Linked DNA regions of Homo sapiens. The protein of the gene in region 1 interacts with the protein of each later gene in a pairwise test. Each region holds a gene or a part of one and is shown in the gene's direction. Other genes may lie near its edges.

The links.
Region 2: the proteins of XRN1 (region 1) and KATNB1 interact in a two-hybrid assay, tested with the Homo sapiens proteins (one large-scale study listed by BioGRID).
Region 3: the proteins of XRN1 (region 1) and MAN2C1 interact in a two-hybrid assay, tested with the Homo sapiens proteins (one large-scale study listed by BioGRID).

What each region holds. Positions count from the first base shown.
Region 1 is NC_000003.12:142,420,474-142,424,121, reverse strand, and holds part of XRN1 (5'-3' exoribonuclease 1), read left to right. Parts: intron 1-479; coding exon 480-562; intron 563-1,199; coding exon 1,200-1,287; intron 1,288-1,371; coding exon 1,372-1,540; intron 1,541-2,578; coding exon 2,579-2,646; intron 2,647-2,968; coding exon 2,969-3,106; intron 3,107-3,648. UniProt on the Homo sapiens protein: Major 5'-3' exoribonuclease involved in mRNA decay. Required for the 5'-3'-processing of the G4 tetraplex-containing DNA and RNA substrates. The kinetic of hydrolysis is faster for G4 RNA tetraplex than for G4 DNA tetraplex and monomeric RNA tetraplex.
Region 2 is NC_000016.10:57,749,122-57,752,769, forward strand, and holds part of KATNB1 (katanin p80 WD40 repeat-containing subunit B1), read left to right. Parts: intron 1-1,705; coding exon 1,706-1,806; intron 1,807-2,139; coding exon 2,140-2,181; intron 2,182-2,519; coding exon 2,520-2,603; intron 2,604-2,818; coding exon 2,819-2,934; intron 2,935-3,408; coding exon 3,409-3,480; intron 3,481-3,648.
Region 3 is NC_000015.10:75,358,506-75,362,153, reverse strand, and holds part of MAN2C1 (alpha-mannosidase 2C1), read left to right. Parts: intron 1-206; coding exon 207-299; intron 300-433; coding exon 434-550; intron 551-772; coding exon 773-868; intron 869-962; coding exon 963-1,108; intron 1,109-1,465; coding exon 1,466-1,589; intron 1,590-1,942; coding exon 1,943-2,064; intron 2,065-2,165; coding exon 2,166-2,251; intron 2,252-2,378; coding exon 2,379-2,534; intron 2,535-2,715; coding exon of another isoform or gene 2,716-2,728; coding exon 2,729-2,826; intron 2,827-2,962; coding exon of another isoform or gene 2,963-3,000; coding exon 3,001-3,095; intron 3,096-3,345; coding exon 3,346-3,450; intron 3,451-3,535; coding exon 3,536-3,648. UniProt on the Homo sapiens protein: Cleaves alpha 1,2-, alpha 1,3-, and alpha 1,6-linked mannose residues on cytoplasmic free oligosaccharides generated by N-glycoprotein degradation pathways.

The sequences.
Region 1 (3,648 bases):
TCTGTCTCAAAAAAAAAAGATACTATGTGAGAAAATTAACTGGAAGTGCTCTTTTCCATTTTTTTTTTTCCTGAGTTTTCATATACTGGGGCTATCCTGGTCTCCAAAAGAGTCCTGCATTCTTTGGTCATAGAAAAGCTGCTGCCTCTAATTTCTAACCAGTTCCCCCACGGCAAGTAGAAATATGTGAAAACCAAGAGAAGATGTTTGGGATTTGGAGGGATAGGAAGAGGAGAGGGGACAGGGGATAGGGTAATGGTTATGAAAAGCATGTGAGCTAAGGTGAACATATTTTTCTTAGAAAAGTACACTTTATCTCATTCATTACCTACAAATAGATCATATTTTGTTATTTGTATATTTAATGTGCTAATTGTTTCTTATTCTTCCTTGTATAGAATTGTTTTTTAATTGCTTTTGTGAACCTAATATTATTAAAAATGGGAGAATAAAAACATTTCTTAATCATTTTTCAACAGATTATGCTTGGATTAACAAGTCATGAGGCACATTTTTCTCTCTTAAGAGAAGAAGTTCGATTTGGTGGCAAAAAAACACAACGGTAAATTATATAGCATATATGTTGGAAGAAAGAAATTACGCCTGGATAGTAATTCTTTAACAGATACATGTTTGTAAATACTTTATCTCATTCCGTAGGTTGCCTTTTCACTATGTTGATAGTGTCCTTTGATGCACAAACGTTTTTAATTTTGTTATAATCCAACTCATTTATTCTTCTTTTTTTAGGAGTTTTCAAGTTTTAACTTTTATGGTTAGATCTTTGATTCATTTTGAGTTAATTTTAGTGTGTAGTGTAAGGTAAGGGCCCAACTTCATTCTTTTGCATGTGGATATCCAATCTTCCTTGCATTATTTGTTGAAAAGACCAGCCTTAAATGGGCCAGATCTCAGTAGTTTCTTACTTCTACTATATGTTATTTAGGACTTCTTAATTCTGAGAATCCTTCCACAGAACACATAATGTAAACCAATTGTTTTGAACTTTAACATGTATTATCTATTATTGCAATTGTATTTTTATCTTTGTTACCCTGCAACCTTCATATAAATTGTATGCCTTAATTACAAGACCTTACTATCTTCTGATGATACTTTTGATTTAAGCTTTGTTACATTTTTAAGCTGGGACCTTAAAAATAAAATTCACTGTATCTTGATCATCTGACTAATTCCAGGGTATGTGCTCCAGAAGAAACTACATTTCACCTTCTACACTTGTCTTTAATGAGAGAGTATATTGACTATGAGTTTTCAGTATTAAAAGTAAGTATTAATAAAGCCATGGACCAAGGATTTCCATTGCAGAAATTTTCACTGGATTTGACTTTGTTCTCTATTTTACTGTAGGAAAAGATCACATTTAAATATGATATTGAAAGGATAATAGATGATTGGATTTTGATGGGGTTTCTTGTTGGTAATGATTTTATCCCTCATCTACCTCATTTACATATTAATCATGATGCACTGCCTCTTCTTTATGGAACATATGTTACCATCCTGCCAGAACTTGGGGGTAAGAAGAATTTAATAATCTCTCGAGGATACTTTAATTTAGTGCCACCTTACCCTAAAAATGTGACTTAGTTTAGTAGATTATTGCATGCACGCTAAAGCAGAAAAACATTGAGGATTTATTTTGGTCTAAGGTGCTAACCTCTGAGGTTGTCATTTTCAGTGATTCACAAGGAAAGAAAGTGAACAGAGTTAACGAACCTCAATTATTGATATCTAACTAATCTTTGCCTTTTTTTTATTATTTATTTATTTTTTGAGACGGGGTCTTGCTCTGTTGCCCAGGCTGGAGTGCAGTGGCGACAGTGCAACGTTTGCCTTCTGGATTCAAGCTATGCCCATGCCTCTGCCTCCTGAGTAGCTGGGATTACAGGCATGTGTCACCATGCCCAGCTAAGTTCTATATTTTTAGTGGAGATGGGGTTTTACCATATTGACCAGGCTGGTCTCAAACTTCGGCCTCAAGTGATCTGGCTTCCCAAAGTGCTGGGATTACAGGCATGAGCCACCACACCCGGTCTAATCTTTGCCTTTAATTCCTTAAGAAAGCCAGCATACTTTATTGGTTTTACTTTTTTCATATTTAAGCATAGAAATTCAATTTTTTTCGAATGGATATGCATCACAGTGTTTATTATGAAGCAGTGATTTTTCAATGAAAACAGAAAATTGACAAACATAGTGATGCCAAATAAAACAGACCACAGGGTAGCAGAACATCAGTCCTTAAGTTAACATATCATATTAAATGATCTAGATAGATTATAGACCATATTTAATTTAATTAATTGTTACCAAATGTTGGATTATTATGTGGAACCTGGAATTTCTTATATTTGGCTTTGGTGCTTACATGTTGCATATTATAGTAGCATAAAATTCACAGAAACTAGGGCCAGTTTGGATATAGTCCAACACTGTTTTTTCTTGATTAGTACTGTAGAACATGAACATTCAACATTTTGTAGAAAGAGTTTTGTAGAATTGTTTAGAAAAAATGTCAGCTTTTAGTACAGATTTAAATTTTTGTTTCTTTTAGGTTATATTAATGAAAGTGGGCACCTCAACTTACCTCGATTTGAGAAATACCTTGTGAAACTATCAGATGTAAGTAACTAGAAATTTTTGGTTTCCTGTCGCAGAGTAGCTGTAAATGATCAGTCACCAATTATGTAATACCAGAAGAAAGGGGTTTTATAATTCTATTCCAATTGCTTATTCAATATAAACACTTTTACCTAAATTAATTTTATTTTTATTTGCTTTCTATTTGTATTTTTAGAGTAACACATGAGGTCTCCCATATATATAAAAGAGTAACATTCTCCAATTTCCTATACCCCAGTAGTAGTCACTGTTTTAAGTTTGATTTGTATTCTTCTAGATATACTTAAATTATTTAAAAATAAATTTAAATATTTCTGTACAGTTTGATCGGGAGCACTTCAGTGAAGTTTTTGTGGACCTAAAATGGTTTGAAAGCAAAGTTGGTAACAAGTACCTCAATGAAGCAGCAGGTGTCGCAGCAGAAGAAGCCAGGAACTACAAGGAAAAGAAAAAGTTAAAGGTGTCTATTTTTTTAGGTGTCCTTTCATTGTTTTAACTGTAAAGGCAAAAATTATATTCTTTGTTTCTCATTTTCCTTCTTATGATTTGGGATTGCCTCGTTTTATTTCTCTTCCTCTCTATAGGCATTTCAGAAATTGATTTGGTTTCTTTTTTTCTATTAGCTTCTGTCATTTAATGAGATCTTCAATAATCAGTTCCTTATTTTTACTGTTGAAGAGGTACATTGTGTTTTATGTTAATAAATGTGGAAAACATTTCTAAACATAAAAGCCCAGAAAATGAATTATTTTCTGGGCTTTTTAAAAAAATTACTTAAAACATGTTATTAAAAACAATTATTTAAGGCCAGGTGCAGTGGCTCACACCTGTAATCCCAGCACTTTGGGAGGCAAAATGGGTGGATTACCTGAGGTCAGGAGTTTGAGACCAGCCTGGCCAACGTGGCGAAACCCCATCTCTACTAAAAAAACAGAAATTAGTTGGATGTGGTGGCACACACCTGTAATCCCAGCTACTTGGGAGGCTGAGGCACGAGAATCA
Region 2 (3,648 bases), on another chromosome or scaffold:
GGGCACTGAGGCCTGGGGAGGAGGAGAGAAGGCCCAGCTTGCGGGACAGCCAAGAGCAGAAGGCAGGCCTTGTGCAGGAAGAAATGTGAATGGGACTAATTAAGACTGGCATTTATTGAGCACTTACCATGTGCAGAGCCCGTGCTAAGCACTTTATGTATGTTTACTCCATTCTGTGACCCAACATGAGGCCCAAAGACAGTAAGTGATTGGCCAGGGTCACACCACCAGTGAGGAGCGGAGCCAAGGCTGATCCCAGTATTGTCTGATGCCAGAGCCCACATCCTGACTTTGGGGGTAGAGAAGATCATACAGTAGAGTTCATTTAATTCACCCAGTGCTTGGATCTTGACTCTGCAGTAAAGTGTTATATATGGAATCTTGAATACCTCCTCTGACAGAGAGCTCACTACCTCACAAGGTGACCTATTGCACCTTGGCTCAAAACTAAGAATGGCTGGACTCCCACATTTCCTGACCCTGGCACTTGGGATGGTCAGTTTCATTCAGATAGTGAATTATGAATCTTTCCAAAAGCAGGAAACATGAGACAAATCTGAGTGGTACTGGAGGACACCCTGAAACACACAAGGTTTGCCTCCAGGCTGGGCCGCTCCTGGCCATGGAGATGCCTGCAAAACCTTCAAGGAAAGGATAGGAGATGTGGTTCCTAGGGCAGTGGGAGGCGATCAGGCCCCACCCCAGGAGTTCTTTGGTCCTCGCGTGTCCTCCCTGTGTCCTCTCAGTTCTCACTGCTCCTCAGTGTGTCCTCACAGCCACCCTCAAGATCCCTTGGACAGAGGTCACCCAAGAAGACTGGTGTGTGCACCAGGGCCACCCCAGCCATGCCCTCCACTTGCCCTTCTTAGGGCCTTTGCCCATCACCTCCATCTACCTAACAGCATCCCTCATCCTCCACCCACTGACATCTACTCAAATACCACCTCCTCCATAAAGCCTTCCTGGATTTCTCTTTCCAACCAAGCAGCTTCTCTCCCAGCTTGAACCTCTCCTGGTCTGTCTCTCTCCTTGCACTGTCTTGGGTGGGGTTCAGTGCCCTGCAAACCATAAGCTCCACACCCATGGGGCCTGAACTGAGTGTGGTGGTTCCCTGGTTCTGCTTCCGCTGGAGCACAGTCTGTGGGGAGAGTGTGGTACAATTTCTGCAGACTTGAGGTAACATAGGGCTGTCACCTCTCAAGAGAAATGTGGGAAAATTAGTTGTTGGCAGGACGCAGTGGCTCACACCTGTAATACCAGCGCTTTGGGAGGCCAAGGCGGGTGGATCACTTGAGGTCAGGAGGCCAGCCCAGCCAACGTGGTGAAAACCTATCTCTACCAAAAATATAAAAAAATTAGCCGGGTGTGGTGGCACATGCTTGTAATCCCAGCTACCTGGGAGGCTGAGGCAGGAGAATTGCTTGAACCCGGGAGGCAGAGGTTGCAGTGAGCCGAGATCACGCCATTGCATTCCAGCCTGGGCGACAGAGCAAGACTCCTTTTCAAAAAAAAGGAAGAAAAGAAAATTCGTTGTTAGGGTGGTGGGACCCTTGATTGTTTCCTACTGTTTTAAAAATGTGTGTTATTGTTCTATTTTTCTGTGCAGCTAATCCAAAAGCGCACACACAAATGCCCACAGCAGCCCTTCCTCTGCCAGCCTTCTCATTTGCCTCTTAGCCACTGTCTCTGCTTTCCTTCTTGTTAGTTCTTCGCACACTCATGGGACACAAAGCCAACATCTGCAGCCTGGATTTCCACCCGTACGGCGAGTTTGTAGCCTCTGGTTCCCAGGACACAAACATCAAGGTGAGAGGCCGGTCCGTGCCCCGTGTCTCCTGCTGGGCCTGTGGCAGGACCAGCCCGGCCCGGCCCTCAGTGCTGGATGCCTGCTGAGGGGACCTCTTCCCTTTCTGCAGCCACATCCACACCATCCTAGGGAAAGCGGGTGGCAGGCATCTATCTGCCAGATGCTTCTGCTCAGAATGCCAGCTTTAGTGAGCAGTTTCTGTCCTTGTCTCCGTGGGGAGTAACGACCTAGAGAAGGCTGGGCCCCACCGTCTGCTCACGACTGCACACCTTCCTCCAGTCGTGGCTCTGACCTCTCCTGACTCTGCCCCTCTGCTTCTCTCTCCCCCACAGCTCTGGGACATCAGGAGGAAAGGCTGTGTCTTCCGATACAGGGTAAGGATGCGCTCTGTCGGTGACTCCATGAGCACCTTGCGGGCATTGAGTGTGGTGTGGTGCCCAGACCCCAGCAGGGGGTGGAGGGGACGGCTGTCCCACATGGGTGATAACATAAAACATAGACCTGGAGCTGAGCAGGAGCGCCATGGGCGGCCCACCTGGATCCCCTGGCTCTGCATGAATCCCCTAGAGCCACGTTCATCAAACTGCTCCAAGCAGAACCAGGCGGGTAACCAGTGTTGTTAGATGGAAGGGGTCCCATAGGAGTGAGGAGGCAGGGAGAGGTCTGTTGGGCCCAGGATCCCAGGGTGAGCTCATGCCGTGTCCTCCCTCAGGGGCACAGCCAGGCCGTGCGGTGTCTCCGGTTCAGCCCCGATGGGAAGTGGTTGGCGTCGGCCGCAGATGACCACACCGTGAAGGTAGCTCCCGGCCTGACCTGGGCCCAGGGGCTGGGGGCTGGGGTCTGCTGATCACAGCAGGCTGAGTCCTCACCTCCCTCCTGATCGGGCTCACATGTCCCAAGCCTATCCCGAGTGGAAGGTAGCTTGTGGATAAAGAGCTTGGCCTGGATTAGAGGGAGGGTGGGCAGCCAAGATGCCTGGTCACCCTGACCTCCTCCCTGCCCTGCCTCCAGCTCTGGGATCTCACTGCCGGCAAGATGATGTCTGAGTTCCCTGGTCACACGGGGCCTGTCAACGTGGTCGAGTTTCACCCCAACGAGTACCTCCTGGCCTCCGGCAGCTCTGACAGGTGAGGAGGAGGAGCGAGGCGAGTTGCTTGTGACTGCTGTCCTTCACCGCCTTGTCCTCTGTGCGTGTCTCTACTGCCGGTCTGTCGCTGTCTGGGGTGTCATACGTCTGATGATCCTGTGTGGACTGAATTGGATTTCAGCCGAGCCAGGACTGGACCCTGGTCCATCTCCCCTGGCTCTGGTTCCCTGGCCCCAGTGTCCCAGGTCTGTGGCTTCATGGGCAGGTTGGGACCCAAGGCATCTAGTGGGACCCCATAGGGCAGGGAGGCTCGTGGCTGTTGGGGCCAACCCTGGGGCCAGGGCCATCGGGCCGAGCCTCCCCCTTGCAAAGTCAGGGCCAGCTCTGCCCCAGATGTTGCTCCTGGTGGCCCTGCCCTGGGGGAGAGGTTTCTAGAGAAAAGCTGGCTTCCCAGGGACATGTGGAGGCCAGGATGAGGGATAGGCTTCGCAGCACAGCTTGGCTGCCTTTGCAGGACAATCCGCTTCTGGGACCTGGAGAAGTTCCAGGTGGTGAGCTGCATCGAAGGGGAGCCTGGGCCCGTCAGGTACGCAGGCTGTGGGGTGGGCGGCCCAGCGCTCCTCCCGGCAGTGGGGCGTGGCTGTGGGTGGGCCTTTCCCATCTCCGCTGCTGCGCCCTCCCTGCCCTGGGCCCTCTGGATTCCTCGGGGTGGGGACCAGGCTGGGTGCCACAGGACCCACGGCCATCTCTCGCC
Region 3 (3,648 bases), on another chromosome or scaffold:
TGACAAGTTGCATGGCCTAGTCCTGGGCACCCCCTCAGGCAGATGGACAGTCAGGCCTGAAGGACAGGGGCCCTTCCTGAGTTCTGGCTGTAACTCCCATGTTTGAGCAGCCCTGGCTTCTCCTGCAGGGATTGGGTTGGCCTGAGCGCCTGCCTGCTCCCCGTCCAGCGCTGACCTGGGCTGCCTCCCACTTCCTTCACTGCCAGGATGGGAACCTGCCCAGTGGAGAGGCCATGGTGAGGCAGTTTTTGCAGGGCCAGAACTTCTTTCTGCAGGAGTTTGGGAAGATGTGCTCTGAGGTAGGCTGAGAGCTGCTACACCAGGCTGTGGGCGAGTGGGGCTGGCGCTCGACTTGGAGTGCTGAGGGGCTGAGGCTGGGGTGAGTCCGCCTGGAGCTCTGGTTCCTGCACTCCAGGATCCTCTTTCTCCACAGTTCTGGCTGCCGGACACCTTTGGCTACTCAGCACAGCTCCCCCAGATCATGCACGGCTGTGGCATCAGGCGCTTTCTCACCCAGAAATTGAGCTGGAATTTGGTGAACTCCTTCCCAGTAAGCAGGCCCCCGGGGGGTCAGGGTCAGAGTGGGCCTCAGTCCCGCCTGGCCCATTTGCCTCTCCCCCTTATTGTGGGGTCCTAGACAGACCACCAAACCCTCACTCTGCCTCTGCCAGGGTCACATAGCAGGCAGGGGCAGGACCAAGTCTGGAAGGCCTGGCTCTGCCTCAGCCCTGACTCTGGCCTCTCTGCCCTGCTTCTGTTTCCCTGCTGGTAGCACCATACATTTTTCTGGGAGGGCCTGGATGGCTCCCGTGTACTGGTCCACTTCCCACCTGGCGACTCCTATGGGATGCAGGGCAGCGTGGAGGAGGTGAGGGGTCACCTAGGGTGGTGGGGTAGGGGCAGGCTGGAGAGGGCTGGCTTGTTCCAGGCTGATCCATGCTGGCCTGCCCTCACCTGTCTAGGTGCTGAAGACCGTGGCCAACAACCGGGACAAGGGGCGGGCCAACCACAGTGCCTTCCTCTTTGGCTTTGGGGATGGGGGTGGTGGCCCCACCCAGACCATGCTGGACCGCCTGAAGCGCCTGAGCAATACGGATGGGCTGCCCAGGTCAGGCCAGGCCTTGGCTCTCCTTTAGCCCCACCCTGGGCCCTTGCCATGAGCCCTGCCTTCCCTCAGACATTGGGCCCAACCCCTCCTCTGGACCTTGTCCTGTCCCAATCCTAGACCACGGGTTCCTCCAAACTTCCACCCTGGGGGTGGGTGGGGGAGAAGCTGAAGCTGGTAAGGGCTCCAGCCCATCAGAGAGAGAGGCTCTCCTAGGGCGTCCAGGGCTGGCCATCTGTGAACGGGGAGCTTTCTGGAGTGGCTCCTCTCTGTAGGAGCTGGATCCTTTGCTTTGGTGTGGAAGAAGGGTGAGCCATGTGGTCTCCAAGGCTGGGAGACCTAGGCTTGTGGTCTCCTCAGGGTGCAGCTATCTTCTCCAAGACAGCTCTTCTCAGCACTGGAGAGTGACTCAGAGCAGCTGTGCACGTGGGTTGGGGAGCTCTTCTTGGAGCTGCACAATGGCACATACACCACCCATGCCCAGGTCAGGGGGAGGTTGCAGGGCTGTGCAGGGAGGGTGTGCCCTTGATCTGCAGAGGGTCAGAGAAGGCAGCAGGGGACAGAGCCCAGGCCAGATCTAGGGGAAGAGAAGTTTGGAGGAGAGAAGTTCAAGACCTGGGTTGGTCAAGAAAGCTTGAAGGAGGCAGAAACCCCTGAAGAAAGAAGGGTTTGGGCTGCGGGGAGAAGAGGGAAGGCATTTAAGGCAGGTCACCCGCCAGAGGCCTTCTCCACGAGGCCCTTGGTGAGTCCTCAGGGATTCTGAGCAAGGGAGGGCTTTGGAAGGTGTCCTGGGACAGCTAAGCAGGCTCCAGACTAATCTTCCCATCCTGGGCTCAGATCAAGAAGGGGAACCGGGAATGTGAGCGGATCCTGCACGACGTGGAGCTGCTCAGTAGCCTGGCCCTGGCCCGCAGTGCCCAGTTCCTATACCCAGCAGCCCAGCTGCAGCACCTCTGGAGGTCAGCCCAGTTCTGTCCCTGCCATCCACCTGACTGCTCACTGCAGTTACCTCTGTGCCTGCCCCTCCCAGCCTTCCCATCCCTGCCCTTGGCCCCTGCAGGCTCCTTCTTCTGAACCAGTTCCATGATGTGGTGACTGGAAGCTGCATCCAGATGGTGGCAGAGGAAGCCATGTGCCATTATGAAGGTTAGGCTCACAATAGTCCTGCCTGCTCTCTCCAACCCCAGGGCTGAGCCCAGAGTGTCCCCTGTGGGATACCCATGGGCACATTCCAGACCTGTTGCCCACCTATGACCAGCCAGTCTTTCCTCAGACATCCGTTCCCATGGCAATACACTGCTCAGCGCTGCAGCCGCAGCCCTGTGTGCTGGGGAGCCAGGTCCTGAGGGCCTCCTCATCGTCAACACACTGCCCTGGAAGCGGATCGAAGTGATGGCCCTGCCCAAACCGGGCGGGGCCCACAGCCTAGGTACGAGCTGAGGGGAAGGGTTGCTACTGCAGCAGGAAGGATGGAGGCCAGACAGATCAGGCCTGGGATACCCCGAGGGATCTGGGTGCCCCTGACTGGAGAGTAGTAGCACATCTTCCACCAACCCATCCCCACCTGCGCAAGCTTCCTGAAAGGTCAGGAAGGCTGCACTGATGCCCAGGCCTCACCCCCAGCCCTGGTGACAGTGCCCAGCATGGGCTATGCTCCTGTTCCTCCCCCCACCTCACTGCAGCCCCTGCTGCCCCAGCAGCCTGTGTTCGTAGTGCAAGAGGTGAGTCCTGCATGCCCTGGGGGGCAGGAACTGTGCTGGGATACTTTCTTACAACTGAGGGTCCTGAGCTCCCCTGTCTGGAGCAAGTGGTGAGGCGGGGCTGGGGTTGGGGTGGGAAGACTTTTGGTGTGGGAAGCCCCTACAGACTCAGCCTCAAGGCCTCCTCCCACAAAGACTGATGGCTCCGTGACTCTGGACAATGGCATCATCCGAGTGAAGCTGGACCCAACTGGTCGCCTGACGTCCTTGGTCCTGGTGGCCTCTGGCAGGTGCCAAATCCTCATTGCCCTTTCCCAGTGCCTGGCAAGTAGACCCCAGGCCATTTCCTCTCTCCCCTTGCCACAACACTGCCCACAGCAGCCCACCAGTGGCTCTGGGCTGGAACCCACACATGGAGCAGGGCAGGCTGGGCAGTAGTCCCCTGTCCACTGGGTCTACTCACTCCACCCTACCCCACCAAGAGCAGCTGGAGACAGCGAGGTCAGTTGGTTGTACAGCACCAATCCCATGTCCTTCCAGGGAGGCCATTGCTGAGGGCGCCGTGGGGAACCAGTTTGTGCTATTTGATGATGTCCCCTTGTACTGGGATGCATGGGACGTCATGGACTACCACCTGGAGACACGGTATAGGCTGGGCAGCATGTGGGGATGGTGGAGGTGGTGGGAACACAGGCTGCTCTGGATCAGTATGTCCACCCCTGTCCCATAGGAAGCCTGTGCTGGGCCAGGCAGGGACCCTGGCAGTGGGCACCGAGGGCGGCCTGCGGGGCAGCGCCTGGTTCTTGCTACAGATCAGCCCCAACAGTCGGCTTAGCCAGGAGG